Linked DNA regions of Homo sapiens: region 2 is linked to region 1. Evidence: fine-mapped expression QTL. Tissue or cell type: whole blood. Region 1 holds a variant in brackets; the other region holds the start of a gene. All regions are shown on one strand. Distances are from middle to middle.

The links. PIP is the estimated chance that this variant, and not a neighbour inherited with it, causes the effect.
Region 2: it holds the start of FUCA1, and the variant in region 1 is fine-mapped to the expression of FUCA1 in whole blood (TOPMed, PIP above 0.99).

Annotation. Positions count from the first base shown.
Region 1 is chr1:23,909,196-23,917,297 of GRCh38, reverse strand. CNR2 (cannabinoid receptor 2) reads left to right here and starts at 3,936. Exons shown (of 2, transcript NM_001841.3): 1 at 3,936-4,052. RefSeq lists enhancers at 208-257, 3,610-4,124, 4,898-5,067 and a silencer at 7,038-7,087. The variant TCAACC/C (reference allele first, on the strand shown) is at 3,803.
Region 2 is chr1:23,865,163-23,873,264 of GRCh38, reverse strand. It overlaps FUCA1 (alpha-L-fucosidase 1), which reads left to right and starts at 4,975. Exons shown (of 8, transcript NM_000147.5): 1 at 4,975-5,367; 2 at 7,640-7,774. The coding sequence starts at 4,979. It overlaps CNR2 (cannabinoid receptor 2), which reads left to right. Exons shown (of 2, transcript NM_001841.3): 2 at 1-2,750. RefSeq lists a silencer at 5,344-5,563 and an enhancer at 6,814-8,013.

The sequences.
Region 1 (8,102 bases):
CACCATGCCCAGCTAATTTTTTATTTTTTGTAGAGACAGGGTCTCGCTATGTTGCCTGGGCTGGTCTCGAACTCCTGGGCTCAAGCAATCCTTCCTTCCTCCTCGGTCTCCCACAGGCCTGGGATTACGGACATGAGCCACCATGCCTGGCTTTGAACCATCTTAGGGTCAGTTGGTTCAGACAGTGCAAAGACTGCTTCCCTGTGGCCTGACAGGAAAAGTATACCTCTCGGGAATGTTCCTCCTCAGATCAGACCCTCAATATGACAGCACTCGGCCCCAGCATGGGGTAGATCCATCCTGTAGATGGCGGCATCTCACAGTACAAGGGCTGCTGAGGCCAGCTCTACCCAAGGAGCTGAGAAAACCGCCTCCTAAACCCTCACCTACAATTGCTCCTGGCCCTCCCAGGGCAAAAAGAGAACAGACTTCCCCTGTGGGCCCCATCAGCCCTGCCCAGGGGACTGAGAGATCATGGAGCTTCCTTATTGATTCTCTTGTCCAGTGCTGCCCATAGGGAGTCCAAGGACCGACAGCATCTGCTTCCCCTGGGAATTAGTTAGAAATGCAGATTCTTGGGCCCCATCCCAGAATACTGAATCAGAATCTCTGGGAGTGGGGCCCAGCAATCTGTGTTTTGGGGTTTTGTTTTTCAAGTCAAGGTTCTCTCTCTGTCACCCAGCCTGGAGTGCAGTAGCATAATCAGAGCTCACTATAACCTCAAACTCCTGAGTTCAGGCAAGACCTCCTCCCGCCTCAGCCTCCCAGAATGCTGGGATTACGGGCATGAGCCTCCTCACCCGGCCCCAATCTGTGTTTTAACAGGCCCTGTGGGTGACTTCCATGCACTCAGGCGTTTCAGGGGCACCTGTTATCTCCAACTTCCTCATTTTAGGAATGGAGAAATTGAGAACAGATACAGGAAGCAACTTGTTGGTCAGCCAGGCAATGGCAGAGACCACACAAAAACTCCGCTTCCCAGCGTTCCTTCCACTTGAACTTTCAGTAACTTCCTTTCTTTCTTCCTTCGTTCATTCATTCCTTCACTCATTCATGCCTTCCACCTCCAATTACATGCTTTGGGCTGCAATGGAGGACCAGGCGTTTGGGGACAGCCTCACCCTTCTTCCCCATGTGGGGCTTTCTCAAGGCCAGAGGTCTAGGATTCAGGATTGTGGAAGCATCTGCTAGATCTCTTCCAGCTCACCCCTGGGTCTCCAATTCCAGCCCAGATAGGAGTCTGATGTAGGCTGCAGGCGGGCCCCACTCCCCAGCTCCTTCTGGTCTTCTTTTCCTCTTTCTTGGCACCTGGGGCTCTCTGTCCCATTCCTCACTGCCAATGTCTTGCTCTTGGGAGAGATGCAAGGGCTGGAGGCTGTTACTGTTCCATTTCCCAAAGGGATGAATGATCAAATTAAAGGCCCTTCCCAGCAATGGCTTTGCGCTGAAGGAGCCAGGACTAGGTCCAGACCAGGGTTCGCAAGTTAGCATCTTGAGCTGGATAATTCCTTGCTGTAGGGCTGTCCTGTGCATTGCAGAATGGTTAGCAGCATTCCTGGCCTCTCCCTAGCAGATGTCAGTAGAATTCCTCCACCAGGTTGTGACAACCAAAAATGTCTCCAGATATTGCCAAGTGTCCCCTCTGGGTGGTGTTGCCAGATAAGACAGAGAATGCCTGGTTACATTCTTTTTTTTCTTTTTCTTTTTTCTTTTTTTTTTTTTTTTGAGACAGAGTCTCACTCTGGAGCCCAAGCTGGAGTGCAGTAAGGCGATCTCGGCTCCCTGCAACCTCCGCCTCTGTGGCTCAAGCATTTCTCATGCCTCAGCCTCCTGAGTAGCTGGGACTACAACTACGCACCACCACACCCAGCTAATTTTTTGTATTTTAGTAGAGATGAGGTTTCACCATGTTGCCCAGGGTGGTCTTGAACTCTTGATCTCAGGCAGTCCATCTGCCTCTGCCTCCCAAAGTGCTGGGATAACAGGCGTGAGCCACCACGCTAGGCTGAGCATTCTAATCGCACATAAGCAACAAGTAATTTTTAGTGCCTGAATGTCTCAACTATTGTTGCATTACCTCACATACTTATTTTTGTGGTGAGAACACTTAAAATCTACTCTCCATCATCTTCAAGAATATAATTCATTGGGCCAGGTGGGGTGGCTCATGCCTGTAACATTTTTTACTTGAAGAATCTTGCAACTCTACCTCAGGGGCAAAATCTTTCTTCATTGGCCCAGATCAGGGTCTGGGGTGTGGGGAGCAGTTAGTGAGAGGATCTGATGAGATAATCATAGGCCATGAGTTTACAAGGGCAAAAACTTTGCCATAATCATCTCTGTATCCTTAGAATATAATGGCGTCTCATTAAATATTTTATCTGAGAGTGGGTGTGAGGACACTTGGAACTATATCAGATACCATACCTGAGTACATCCAGCCCAGGACTGGACATTAGGGACATACTCCCTAATAAATATAAACTGAAGATAATGTTTAGTTTGACTCACATAGCATTTTTTAAAGGTGTGACTTTGGGCTTTACATTCTAAAATTGGCAACTGGCTGAGCATGGTGGCTCATGCCTGTAATCCCAACACTTTTGGAGACTGAGGCGGGAGGATTTGCTTGAGCCCAGGAGTTCAAAACCAAGCTAGGCAACATAGTGAGACCCCCATCTATACAAAAAAATTAAAAAAAAAAAATAGCCAGGTGTGGTGGCACATGCCTGTTCTGCCGGCTACCTGGAAGGCTGAGATGGGAGGATCACTGGAACCCAGGAATTTGAGGCTGCAGTGAACTATGATCGTGCCGCTGTACTCCAGCCTGGGCAACAGAGCGAGACCCTGCCTCAAAAAATTAAAATAAAATAAAATAAAGTAAAATAAAATAAACAGGAAGTGGCTGGGCGTGGTGACTCACCCTGTAATCCTAGCACTTTAGGAGGCCAAGGTGGGTGGATCACTTGAGGTCAGGAGTTCAAGACCAGCATGGTCAACATGGCAAAACCCTGTCTCTACTAAAACTACAAATTAGCTGGAGGTGGTTGTGTGCACCTGTAGTCCCAGCTACTCAGGAGGCTGAGGCAGGAGAGTTGCTTGAACCCAGGAGGCAGAGGTTGCAGTGAACCGAGATTGCGCCATTGCACTCCAGCCTGGGCAATAGAGCGAGACTTGGTCTCAAAACAAAAACAAACAAACAAAAAACAAAACACACACACACACACACACACAGGAAGCTATCACATAAGTCAAGATTTCTGGTATCTCTTGAAAAATACAGCACAACTTCCAAATGCTTGGAATATCTGACAATTTGCCTATACTCCCAAGCAGAAAAGCTTGGCTGGAACTAAGAGGTACCTGCCCCTCTCTACTGGCCCAGATCAGGGTCTGGGGTGTGGGGCAGATACCTCTCAGCTGGGCCAGTAGAGAGGGTCAGGTACCTCTCAGCTCCAGCCAAGCTTTTCCACTTGGGTCCTGTGTTCCCCCTATTACCCACAGTCCCTACCACTCCCTATTGCCCCACACCAGGATCCATCACCCATTATGTTAATCTGCCTGTAGGCATTTGCATTTCAAAGCTCTGGCCTAGTGGTGAAGAGGCATTGGAATGGCATGTCCTTTTAGGTGATCTACTGTAATGTTGGTGCATTATCCCCATTTTACAGATAAAGAAACTTGCCTTTGGGGAAGTTAAGTGAATCAACATTTTAACGAGGCTGTATTAGAACCCAAGTCCCTTGACTCCAGGGTCTAGGCCCATGCCCCACCCTGGCCAGAGTTCGTTGTAAGAGATAAC[TCAACC/C]GCAGGGGCAAGAGCATTGTGGCACCAGGGACCTGGAGGGGAAGTGGTAACAGGCACGGAAGGCCAGACCTCCTCACACTCACTCATCTGTGAGAAAGTACAAAAGCAAGAGAAAGCTGGCTTGGGGTGGCACTCAACAGGTGCTCTGAGTGGCACCCACGGCCAGGTCCTGGGAGAGGACAGAAAACAACTGGGACTCCTCAGCCCCCGGCAGCTCCCAGTGCCCAGCCACCCACAACACAACCGTGAGTAGCTTTTTTTGTTGTTTATTTTAGGCTTCTTCCTCATTCCCCAACACCTGTATTCTTTTTTGTTTGTTTGTTTGTTTTTGAGACGGAGTTTTGCTCTGTTGACCAGGCTAAAGTACAGTGGCACAATCTCGGCTCAGTGCAGCCTCACAGGTTCAAGCGATTCTCCTGCCTCAGCCTCCCGTGTAGTTGGGATTACAGGTGTGCACTACTGCGTCTGGCTAATTTTTGTATTTTTAGTAGAGACAGGGTTTCACCATGTTGGCCAGGCTGGTCTCGAACTCCCGACTTCAGGTGATCTGCCCACCTTGGCCTCCCAAAGTGCTGGGATTACAGGCATGAGCCACTGCACCTGGCCAAAACCTGTATTCTTACCTTATCCCTTCCCTCCAGGGACACAAGAAGCCAGGTGGGCCTGTCTGGGGCAGGGGATAGATGTCATTTCAGGACACCTGGGGTTGTGGAGGACCAGTCGCAGGAAAGTTCAGGGCTGGCATCCCCCTCCTAGGACCAAGAATCAGGACTTTGGCTTTCATTTCATTACAGAGACAAGAATCACACACACAGAGATGGCCTTACTGTGTGCCAGGCGCTGCCCTAAGAGCCTTTAGTGGTTGGATTTATTTAATCCTCACAACAGCCGTATGCAGTAGGAGCTATCACTGTTGTCCACTTGATAGGTGGGGGCTAGGTGACCCACCTGAAATCATGCGGGCATTGAATGAGAGCATTGGCTTGAGCCTAGGCACTCCGGCTTCGCGGCCCACCCTTCAGCCACCAGGCTATCCTGCCTTACGAGGTGTGGACTGCAACAGTAGATGGGGGCCAGGAAATGACAGGGGCTGGCAGAGGCCTTTGAGATGACCAGGTGAGTCCTGCGCTCTCATTTTATAGATGGGGAGACCACAAGGTAGTGTTAGGGGCACACTGGACTCAGGAGGCCAGGGGTCTGCTTTGGTGTAAGTTCCACTCAGCGGAGGGAAGAGCAGTATTTTCCAGTGTGCCCTGGGGTCAGCGTCCAGGTCTGAATCCCAGCTCTGCCACTGGTAGCTCGATGGCCTAATGCAAATCACTCCATTTCTTTCCTGCTCAGCTTCCTCTTCTGAGAAACATGGGCCTGAGAAGGTCACTCACAGGCTTGTTGCGAGTCAACTGTCTGATGCGGGCACAGGGCGGGCAGCAGCACAGGGCTCGGGAATGGCTGTGGTGGAGAGTTTGATCTTCACCCCATCTGCTCTTGCTGTGGATCTGAGATGAGGATAAAATGAGGCCTGGCTGCTTTTCCCTGGAATGAGTGGCAAGTAGACACGTTGGCAGCATGAAAACCAGGATGGAGGCTGGGGAGAAGTTCAGGGAGAGCTCAGGAGGTGGAGTCCCAATAATCCTGGCCCCAGCTCTGTAACCACCTTGTGGCTTACCAGAGTGACCCCCTAACCTGCGCTGGGCAGGTGAAGCATATCCTTTACCCTTTGGCCGGCTAAGGCCAGGATAAGGCAGTGAAGACGGGAAAATGGCAGCCTGGCTCAGCCAAGCAGAGCCCTCCAGCGCCAGCCCCCTCTCTTCCCACCTCATTTTACAGTACCAGTCACTCTTACTGCACACCCTCGGGTGTGCATAAATTGATCTTTTCTTTATTCAGTTGAAGTCACATTCAATAGGACCCTGAGCCTCATCCTACTGGGCTAGGAGGAAATTTAATCTCCAAGTGCACTGAGCTTCCCTCACTCCCATCCCCACCCATGCACATTGACCCAGAGGACACACAGAACATAAGCGTGAGGGAGGCTCCTGGGTCCTCCTACGATGGATGCCCATTGCCCAAATGGACTTGATTGTCTGAAGTCCAGCCTTGCCCACTTCCCTGGCATGCCTGGAGTCCAGATTCTTTGTAAGACCTGAAACCACTGTGTCTCATTTTGACATCCAGGATATATCACCCAGTGACTTCCCCCAGAGGTCCTGCCATCTTCCCAGAAAGCAAATTCTAGGTGCCCAAGACCTCGGTCCCCTCCCAGCCAAGGACAATCTCTCCTCTCCCCTTGGCTGTGGATGGCAGATGGACACTCTTCTCTCCCCACCCCCCACCCACGTGACCTAACCTTCTCACTGCGCTCAGGTTCTCAGGAAAGGACAGGAAGAAGGGTTGTCTTCAAATAGCTTCTGCTTCCTACTCTCACCCCTGAAAAAAGTCCCCGAGCCACGAGACACAAAGGGCACTCTGAAAAGAGACAGGCAGCCCTATCTTACAGATGAGAAAAACCAAGACTCAGCAGCAGTGTTGACTTGCTCAGTGTCACACAGCCAAGGAATAGCGGAGCCAGTGTGAGCAGAGAGTCCTGCGCTGTGGGTTCAGAGCTTGTGCTATCAATCACATGGAATCACATGGAAACCCAAGTCTCCCTCATCAATTACTCAGGCAACCTGGGGCAAGTTACATCACCTTTCTGAACCTCAGTTTCTTCAACTCTAAAAATGACGCTATCATAGCATTCCCAACCTGCCTCAAAGGGGCTCTTGTTTTTTGTTTTTTGTTTTTTTGTTTTGTTTTCTTTTCTTTTCTTTCTTTTTTTTTTTTTTTTTTTTTTTTTGAGACAGCGTTTTGCTCTTGTTGCCCAGGCTGGAGTATAATGGCGTAATCTCAGCTCATTGCAACCTCTGCCTCCTGGGTTCAAGCGATTCTCCTGCCTCAGCCTCCCAAGTAGCTGGGATGACAGGCATGCACCACCACGCCCGGCTAATTTTGTATTTTTAGTAGGGATGGGGTTTCTGCATGTTGGCCAGGCTGGTCTCGAGCTCCCGATCTCAGGTGATCCGCTCTTGTTTTTTTCTTAAGCGAAGATTGATGAAGCATTTACTACACATTTGAGCTCTGTGACCGTTCCTCATTAAGTCCTCACCACAGCCTAGGAGGGGGCTGCTATCACTAACCACATTTGCAAGGTGAGAAACTGAAGCTCACACAAGCTTAAGACTTATCCAAGGGGCCGGGCATGGTGGCTCATACCTGTAAGCTTGGCACTTTGGGAGGCCCAGGCAGGAGGATAGCTTGAGCTCAGCACTTCAAGACCAGTCTAGGAAACATAGTGAGACCCTATCTCTACAAAAAAAAAAAAAAAAAAATTAAAAATTAGCCAGGCATGGTGGCACATGCCTGTGGTCCCAGCTACTCAGGGGGCTGAGGTGGAAGGATTGTTTAAGCCTGGGAGATTGAGGCTGCAGTGAGCTATTATTGCCTGGGTAACTGAGCAAGATACTGTTTCAAAAAAAAAAAAAAGAAGGAGAGAGACTTGTCCACAGTCCCATAACTGGTGGTAATGGCAAAGCTGAGACTCAAGTCCAGGTCAATCTGGATCCAGAACCAAGCCATATTGTGGTGGGAATCAAAATAGGAGAACGGGAGTGGAAATGCCTCTAGGTATGGAGATGCAGGGCAGGCTCGGGGACTCATGATCAGGGTTGTCTTTACTGTGTCGCTCGCCAGGCTGCGTTTCAGATGCCATCACATGGACAACCCGAGAACCTGCGCTGGGGAGGAAATTGGAGGGATATCATATGAATATGGCCGGCTTCTCTCCTCCCACCCCAAACTGAGCAGTCCAATCCAGTCTTGTGAGGTGTCTACTCTGTGCCAAGACCCTGAGGCTCTAGCCCTTGGCCCAGGTGACTTCCTGTTTCCATGATGATCTCTGACAGACCTTCCCTGACTGTGCTTAGGCATTATCTTATGTAATCCTCACCTCGGTCCTGTAAAGGCAATTCTCTTTCTCTCCCCAAGCTATAAATGAGGACACTGAAGTCTCGGGAGAGGGCAGAGTGGGAACCCACGCACAGCCAAGGCTCTCGGTCCCCAGCTATGCTGCAGGGACCACCAGAAGAGTAAGATCAGGTCTCAGCCTTCTTCCAGCAGAACCCAGAACAGTGTAAAACTGTTCTCTTTTCCCTCCATCTCCTGGGGAGAGAAAGGATGTACTCAGTCCTCACGCCATGCAGCAAAGACCTCAAATGCCAAGGAGAGAAAATGACAGACAAGGCCAGATTAATGGGGGA
Region 2 (8,102 bases), 44 kb after region 1:
GACTGTCTCAAAAAAATAAAATAAAATAGATCCCAGGGTACTCATTTTTCATATGAGGGAGGCTGGGTTCCTCCCAGAGGAGCCTAAAACAGCCAACAAGAGAAATTGTTGGCGGCAGGAAGATTGCAGAGGAATTCTAATGCAATTATTTGGGACCTCAAATGGAATAAAATGAAAGATATTGGTTAAACATGTCTTCGTTTAATACTTTCAAGACAAAATATCCACTAGCTATTCACTTATTCATTCATCTCATAAACATGAGCCAGGCTCTGTGCAGGGTCCTGAGTACCCAGCCATAAATGAGACTGTGCCCCTGTCTCATGGGGCTTACAGTCTATATCCTGCTTGCAAGACAGCCAATAAGTCAATAAAGAAGATAATTACAGGCAGTACAACAAAGGAAATATGCAGGTTCATGTCATGTAATAGGGATTAATTGAGTTAACTCAATAAACGGTAGGATAGACCTACCATGTGCCGGCTCACTTTTATTGAGCCTTTACTATGTGCCAGGCAGGGGGCTAAGTGTTTTTAAATGCCTTATTTCACTTCATGTTTCCCAACAACCTAATAAGAAGGTCTTAGTTATCTTCATTTTACAGATGTGGCAACCTCAAAGATGCAAAGTCACTTGTCTAAGGTCACCCTGCTAAGTACCAGAGCTGAGGTCTCCAACCTAGTTCTGTTTGACTTCAAAGCCTGCCCTCTTAACCACTAACCTTTTGTCCTAGTTCAGTCAAATTCTGCTTGATTATTGCTCATTAGGGATAATATTAGCTATCTGTAGCATCAGATTGCTGCAAAGTTAACTCATCGTAGATTCTCAATATACTCCATTTTATTAAATGGCCCCGTATTAATCTCCTGTAATAAATTTCACAAATCCAGTGGCTTATCAACAGAAATTTACTGTCTCATAATTCTGGAGGCCAGAAGTCAAAATCAAGATGTGGTAGGGCCCTGCTCCCTCCAAAAGTTTAAGGGGAGAATTATTCCTTGACTCTTTCAACTTCTGGCAGTCCCTGTCATTCCTTGGCTTGTGGAAACATCACTCCTACCTCTGACTCTGTCTTCATATGGCATTTCCTCTGTGTCTCTTGGTGTCTTTTTTTTTTTTTTTTTTTTTTTTGAGACGGAATCTCATTCTGTTGTCCAGGCAGGAGTGCAGTGACATGATCTTGGCTCACTGCAACCTCCACCTCTCAGGTTCAAGTGATTCTCCTGCCTCAGCCTCCCAAATAGCTGGGACTACAGGCACCCGCCACCACACTCAGCTAATTTTTGTATTTTTAGTAGAGATGGGGTTTCACCATCTTGCCCAGGCTGGTCTTGAACTCCTGACCTCAAGTGATCCGCCCACCTTGGCCTCCTAAATTGCTGGGATTACAGACGTGAGCCACCATACCCGGCCTGGTGTCTTTTTTAAAGAATATCAGTCACTGGATTTGGGCCCACCCTAATCCTAATAGTATGACTTCATCTTAATTTAACCAATTATATCTGTAGAGACCCTGTTTCCAAATAAGGTCACATTCACAGATTCCAGGTGGACAAGAAGTTTAGGCGGACACTATTCAACTCAGTACAGACCCAGGAACAAAGTCCACCCACTGGGCTGTGTTGAGTGGCAGTCACTAGTTTATCCTCCCTCAACAAGATGAGCTCCAGGTTGACCTCTGCATCCCCAGTGCTCAGTCAGGACCCAGCAGAGCATCTGAAGGGATCTGGTCAATATGTGTGGAACTGAACTGTTTCTGAAAAGCTCTGACGTATGTTTTGGAAAATCAAATCTTGTTTTAATCCAGACACCAATCTTTTTGTAAGGCAAACAAGTAGCATAAATGTTTAAAAGTGAATTTGCATGTTTATATACTGTCATTCCTTAAAGTTGAAGCATGCCTTTCTTTATTCATCGGTGGAATCCTTTCTCATTTTGGCAAAGAAAATGCCCAAGTGCCTGGCACAAACAAGCACTGAGTAAATACTTCTTGAATGAATAAAACTAGATTCTAAAAATCATTTGATCAAACGCAACTCCACACTTTCTACTTCTCTTCTTTTAGAACCACACTGTATTTCTGCTTTTTTTTTTTTTTTTTTTTTTTTTGACATAGAATCTCACTCTGTCACCCAGGTTGGAGTGCAGTGGCATGCAATCTTGGCTCACTGCAACCTCTGCCTCCTGGGTTCAAGCAGTTCTCCTGCCTTAGCCTCCCATGTAGCTGGGATTACAGGTACCCGCCACCATGCCCAGCTAATTTTTGTATTGTTAGTAGAGATGGAATTTCACCATATTGGCCAGGCTGGTCTTGAACTCCTGACTTCAAGTGATCCACCCACCTTAGCCTCCCAAAGTGCTAGGATTACAGGTGTGAGCCACCACTCCCAGCCCCTATGTCTGCTTTAAGTGGAGAAGCAGAGCTTATGAGGGAGGAGAACAAGGGTGCAAAAGGGACCTAGATATCACTGAGAACTGCCCTTGTTGTTTGGTTGAGGAAATGGGCCCAGACAGTGGACAAGACTTGCTCAGGGAGACAAACGAGATGGTGTCCAGTGCAACAAACCTAGGTTTCCTAACTTCCAGTTCTGTCCACTCTACATCAGTGCCTCTCACCTGTCCCTGCAGGTTCACATTTTGGTTATGTGGATAAGGAGAAATAAATTGAAGATCACAATGTCCCATTTTATCTTCCCCAAGACAAGCTCTGTAACATTAAAGACCACTATGCAAACCGATTACTAGAAAATGTGTGTGGATGGGTTCGGTTTTTTTCCTAAGGTGTTCATGCTTACTGTTTTGGGCAATATTTCAACATAATCTGGCAGAAAAAGAAACAGAAGATAAAGAAAATAGCTGTAGGCCGGGTGCAGTGGCTCATGCCTGTAATCCCAGCACTTTGGAAGGCTGAGGCTGGCGGATCACTTGAGGTCAGGAGTTCGAGACCAGCCTGGCCAACACGGCGAAACCCCATCTGTATTAAAAATACAAAAATTAGCCAGGCGTGGTGGCGTACCTGTAAACCCAGCTACTCGGGAGGCTGAGGCAGGAGAATGGCTTGAACCCAGGAGGTGGAGGTTGCAGTGAGCTGAGATTGCAGCACTGCATTCCAGCCTGGGCGACAGAGCAAGACTGCATCTCAAAAGAAAAGAAAAGAAAAAAGAAAAGAAAAGAAAAGAAAACAGCTGTGATTCAGCAATAGTCATTTTCTCTCCTTGTCACTGCCAGAGTGAGGAAGTGCTGGGTTCTGTCAACATAGGCTCTGACTTCTCATGAGGTGCAAGAAAGAAGCAGCATGAACAAAGGCATAGATTTTGCACCTGGAGACACGTATTCTAGTCCCACCTCTGACTCAAACTAGCTGCATGATCTTGGGCAGCCCCCCAGCCCTCTCTGGGCTTCAGTTCCCTCCTCGGTACAATGGGAAGGGTAGGGAAGAGGATGGTGCCTAGGATCTTCAAAGTCCCAACTCTGATGTGCTGCCATTCTCTCACTGGCATGTGGGAACTGAGTGTGCTACGTGGAGTCATGAGACTTCTTCTTCCTTTTCTTTTTCTTTTTTTTTTTTTTTTTTTTTGAGACCGAGTCTCACTCTGTCGCCCAGGCTGGAGTGCAGTGGTGCGATCTCGGCTCACTGTAACCTCCACCTCCCGAGTTCAAGCAATTCTCCTGCCTCAGCCTCCTGAGTAGCTGGGATTACAGGCGCACCCCATGCCCGGCTAATTTTTGTATTTTTAGTAGAGATGGGGTTTCACCATGTTGGCCAGGCTGGTCTCAAACTCCCGACCTCAGGTGATCTGCCCACCTCGGCCTCCCAAAGTGCTGGGATTACAGGCGTGAGCCACCTTGTCTGTTCAGAGACTTCTGACTTCCGTATTTCCCTCGCTAATGGCCTCACCTCCCGTTTGAGTATGTGCAGCATGTGCAAATTGCAGAGGAACTGGGGAACTTCCCTGCCAGGCAATCCTGGGTCCTCTTGGCTCTCCACTTCCTCCTTCCTTCCTTCCTTCCTCCTTCCTTCCTTCCTTCCTTCCTTTCTTTCTTCCTTGGTCTGGCTCTGTCGCCCAGGGGCTGGAGTGCAGTGGCGGTATCTCGGTACAAACTAAGCTATTTGAAATGCCTCGGAATTCCCAAAGAAAGCTCAGTAAATACCAGACAGATGAAACGGTCCTGCCCGCTCTCCCTCTTTCAGTACCCAGTTTTCTCTTTCCTCTCCTTTCATAACGTTTCTTCCCATCATCCCTCTACCTCCTTATTTCTGTCAGGGCTGTTAGATACCCTTCCGGTCTGTTATCTCCTCCTCCAGCCTTGTGCTACAGGACAACTCAAAAGCCCCCTATGGCTCCCAAGTGATCACTAAATAAAACTCGTGATCTCACTTCAGCCTACCCCTGCAGGATTGCTGCGGCAAAATGGACTACTCCCAGAGGCGTGATCACGGTTCGGTTCACTGCAGCCCAGACTTCCCGGGCTCAAGCGATCCCGAACCTCCCACCTCAGCCTCTCGAGTAGCTGGGACTCCAGACGTGCACCACTACGCCAGGCTCATTTTGTTTATTTTTTATAGAGACAGGCTAGTCTCCAACTTGTGGGCTCAGAGCGATCCTCCCGCCTCGACTTCCGAAAGTGTTAGGATTACAGGCGTGAGCCACTGCGTCCGGCTCAATGGACTCCTTCTTAAATGTGAGTTCTCCGCACACACTGGGCCTTGCTCACCTCCACGATTTAACCTCGCAGTTAAGTCCCTTTTCAAGGTTTTTATTCGTCCTTCAGCGAAGCGCTGTCAACGCCTCCCTGCGTCTTTCCCTTCTTGAGCACCAGAGGGCGCTCCTCCGACCCGAGGAGGAAGCGACTCGGGCCAACCTGTCCAGGTTGTCCCACCCCTTTTTCCTTCCGGGCCAATCGTTAGTCAGAGTGGGCGGAGCCGCCCGCGGGCACCTGCGCGTTAAGAGTGGGCCGCGTCGCTGAGGGGTAGCGATGCGGGCTCCGGGGATGAGGTCGCGGCCGGCGGGTCCCGCGCTGTTGCTGCTGCTGCTCTTCCTCGGAGCGGCCGAGTCGGTGCGTCGGGCCCAGCCTCCGCGCCGCTACACCCCAGACTGGCCGAGCCTGGATTCTCGGCCGCTGCCGGCCTGGTTCGACGAAGCCAAGTTCGGGGTGTTCATCCACTGGGGCGTGTTCTCGGTGCCCGCCTGGGGCAGCGAGTGGTTCTGGTGGCACTGGCAGGGCGAGGGGCGGCCGCAGTACCAGCGCTTCATGCGCGACAACTACCCGCCCGGCTTCAGCTACGCCGACTTCGGACCGCAGTTCACTGCGCGCTTCTTCCACCCGGAGGAGTGGGCCGACCTCTTCCAGGCCGCGGGCGCCAAGTGAGTGTGGTCCCGGGGAGCGGCGCCCCTTCCCGGCTCGGGCGGCAAACAGGAGGTGGGGCTGGGCGGCCAGCTGGGGCGCGCAGCTGCCGGTCGCCCCCATGACCCCGGGGCCCGCGTGTGGCCTCCTGCGGCCACAGGAGTGAGCCTGGCACACCTGATGAGGAGGAGGAGGTGCGTTTGACTGGGGACTGATAAATGAAGGTTCAGGGAGATGGCAGGCTGGGAAGCCCTGGGTATCTGCACCTGTGCACCGAGAGGGCTGAGTTAGGCCATACCTGATGTCCCTTTCAGATTGACAGCACTATCAGGACTCCAGGGTTTCAAATCAGTGGTGTGGAGCCTGGTTCTAATTCAACTGTGAACCTGGACATGTCACTTCAGCCTCCCTGCAGCCTCTTCTATGGTTGTAGAAAGGGGTTATATAAGGATACAACCCTTTGAGCCCTAATGTCTCTAAGAGGGAAAGAGAGGGGAGTTCTGGTGTGCAGTGTATTTGGGCAACAGTACAGATAGTCATTCGTTTGCTCCTCTCAATCCCTTTTACGTAGGAAGTGTCCAGGAAGGGTCTGACTCTCTCTGAGAACTGTTGGAACTTGGGGGTGGCTGGTTCAGAGAACAGAGTAGAGAGCGCTGGGGTGGGGATAAGGGGAGACCACGACCCATGAAGTTGTCAAGGCAGGGGCTTGTCCTGAAGGAGTGAGCCTTGAGAGCCCTGTATTGACAGATGTTAAGTCAGGGAGTGGTTACTATCAGCTTCTAGAAAGATTCATTCGGCTGCTGGGAGAGAAGTGGGTTGGAGAAGAGTAAAAATGGAGGCGGGGAGGTTTCCCCAGCCCCTGGCTTAGAGCAGTCTTCCATCCTTACCTTGGTTCCTCAGCCATCTTCCGGGTTTTCGTTTCTCTTGAACTTTGAATTCACTTGTACTAAAGAGAAGTTACAACTGGCATTTAGTGTTTGCCATTAAATGTATGGGAGTATAAGACTTGATTAAGCAGAGGAAGTGTTTGTCTCCTAGGGGCCTTAGGGATCCATAACTTACAAGTGAGAAAAATTAAAATCTGGGAGATAACCTCTTTCCATGCCTTTTATTTCATGGATGAGATGACTGGCCCAAAGAGAGGAAGGAATATAATGTCCTAGACTCCAGGTCTCATGACGTCAAGGTTGTTTCCACTGCACCAGGGTCTGCAAACTGGCCAGAGGGATTGGTCCTCTGCCAGTTTTTTAAGGCCCATGAGGTGAGAATGGTTTTTACATTTTTAAAGGGTTGTAAAATGTTTTAAAGAAGAATACACTACAGAGAGGAATGTGCTCCCACAGAGCCTAAAATACTATCTGGCCCTTCAAATCCTGGAGTTCCCTACTCTGGCCAATGATTGAACCATAAAGTGCATTACCTATTTTTGTGCCATAAAAGCAAATTAAATATTGAGTGATTTGGTTGTTATTTCAACACTTGCCTTTTCTCCCAGTTATTGGGTCTTTTGTCACCTCTATAATAAATGAGAGGCAATTTATGTAGGCTTGGTAAACCAAACAGCTTAGTTTTCTAGAAAGTTTTCTATTTTGTTGTTATTGTTGTTTTGAAACAGTTTTGCTCTGTAGCCCAGGCTGGAGTACAGTTGCATGATCTCGGCTCACTGCAACCTCTGTCTCCCAGGCTCAAGTGATTCTTATGCCCCAGCCTCTCAAATACCTGGGACTACAGGCACACACCACCATGCCCGGCTAATTTTTGTATTTTTAGTTGAGATGGGTTTTCGCCTCATTGGCCAGGTTGGTCTTGAACCCCTGACCTCAGGTAATCCGCCCACCTTGGCCTCCCAAAGTGCTGGGATTACAGGTGTGAGCCACCATGCCTGGCCAGCAAATGGCTTAGTTTTCTATTATCTGCCATTTCCAGTAGAGCTCTTTCTCCTTCAGGGCAAAGAATGAAAGAAAGTTAATCGTTCCTACCAGAAGTGTTGAAGAATCAGAGAGCTAAGGTGCACTTCTTTTCCCTTACCCACTCCTTCCTTCCCTCTGGGCCTCCTCCTTTGCTGGGGACTGAGGGTTGGGACTTCCTCAAATCTGCTTCCATTCTTGGAGCAATGCCCAAGGGGAATTGTGACTGCAGCAGCTTCCTGGATATCACTAATATAGTCACTGGTACAAGTACATTTGTTGTGGTCAAGTTCTTTCAGCTATTTAAAAAGCCTCAGGCATGCTGGGCAAGTTCATGCAAGTTCACTGCCCACTTCCTTTGCTCATGTGGTTTTGCTGTCCACAGGTATGTAGTTTTGACGACAAAGCATCACGAAGGCTTCACAAACTGGCCGAGTCCTGTGTCTTGGAACTGGAACTCCAAAGACGTGGGGCCTCATCGGGATTTGGTTGGTGAATTGGGAACAGCTCTCCGGAAGAGGTGAGTGTCCAGGGATGGTTACTCTGTTATCTCTTTGGATCTGGCTGTCAAGAGTTCTGTACCTCCTCTACTTGCGTGTGTTTTCTAGGTTTGCATATAGCAAGTAGCCTGAAGGGCTTTTGGCCTTCTACTCCTGTGTGTTTTCTAGGTTTGCATATAGCAAGTAGCCGGAAGGGCTTCTGGCCTTTGAATTGGCAGTGTTTGATGCTTCACAGTTTTCACGTGACCAAAGGGGACACCGTTACAGAAGTTCATGGCCATGTCTGGTTAGATGAAGGATACCCAACATAGACTACGATGCTACTTGATGTCCTGTTTGAGGAGTAGG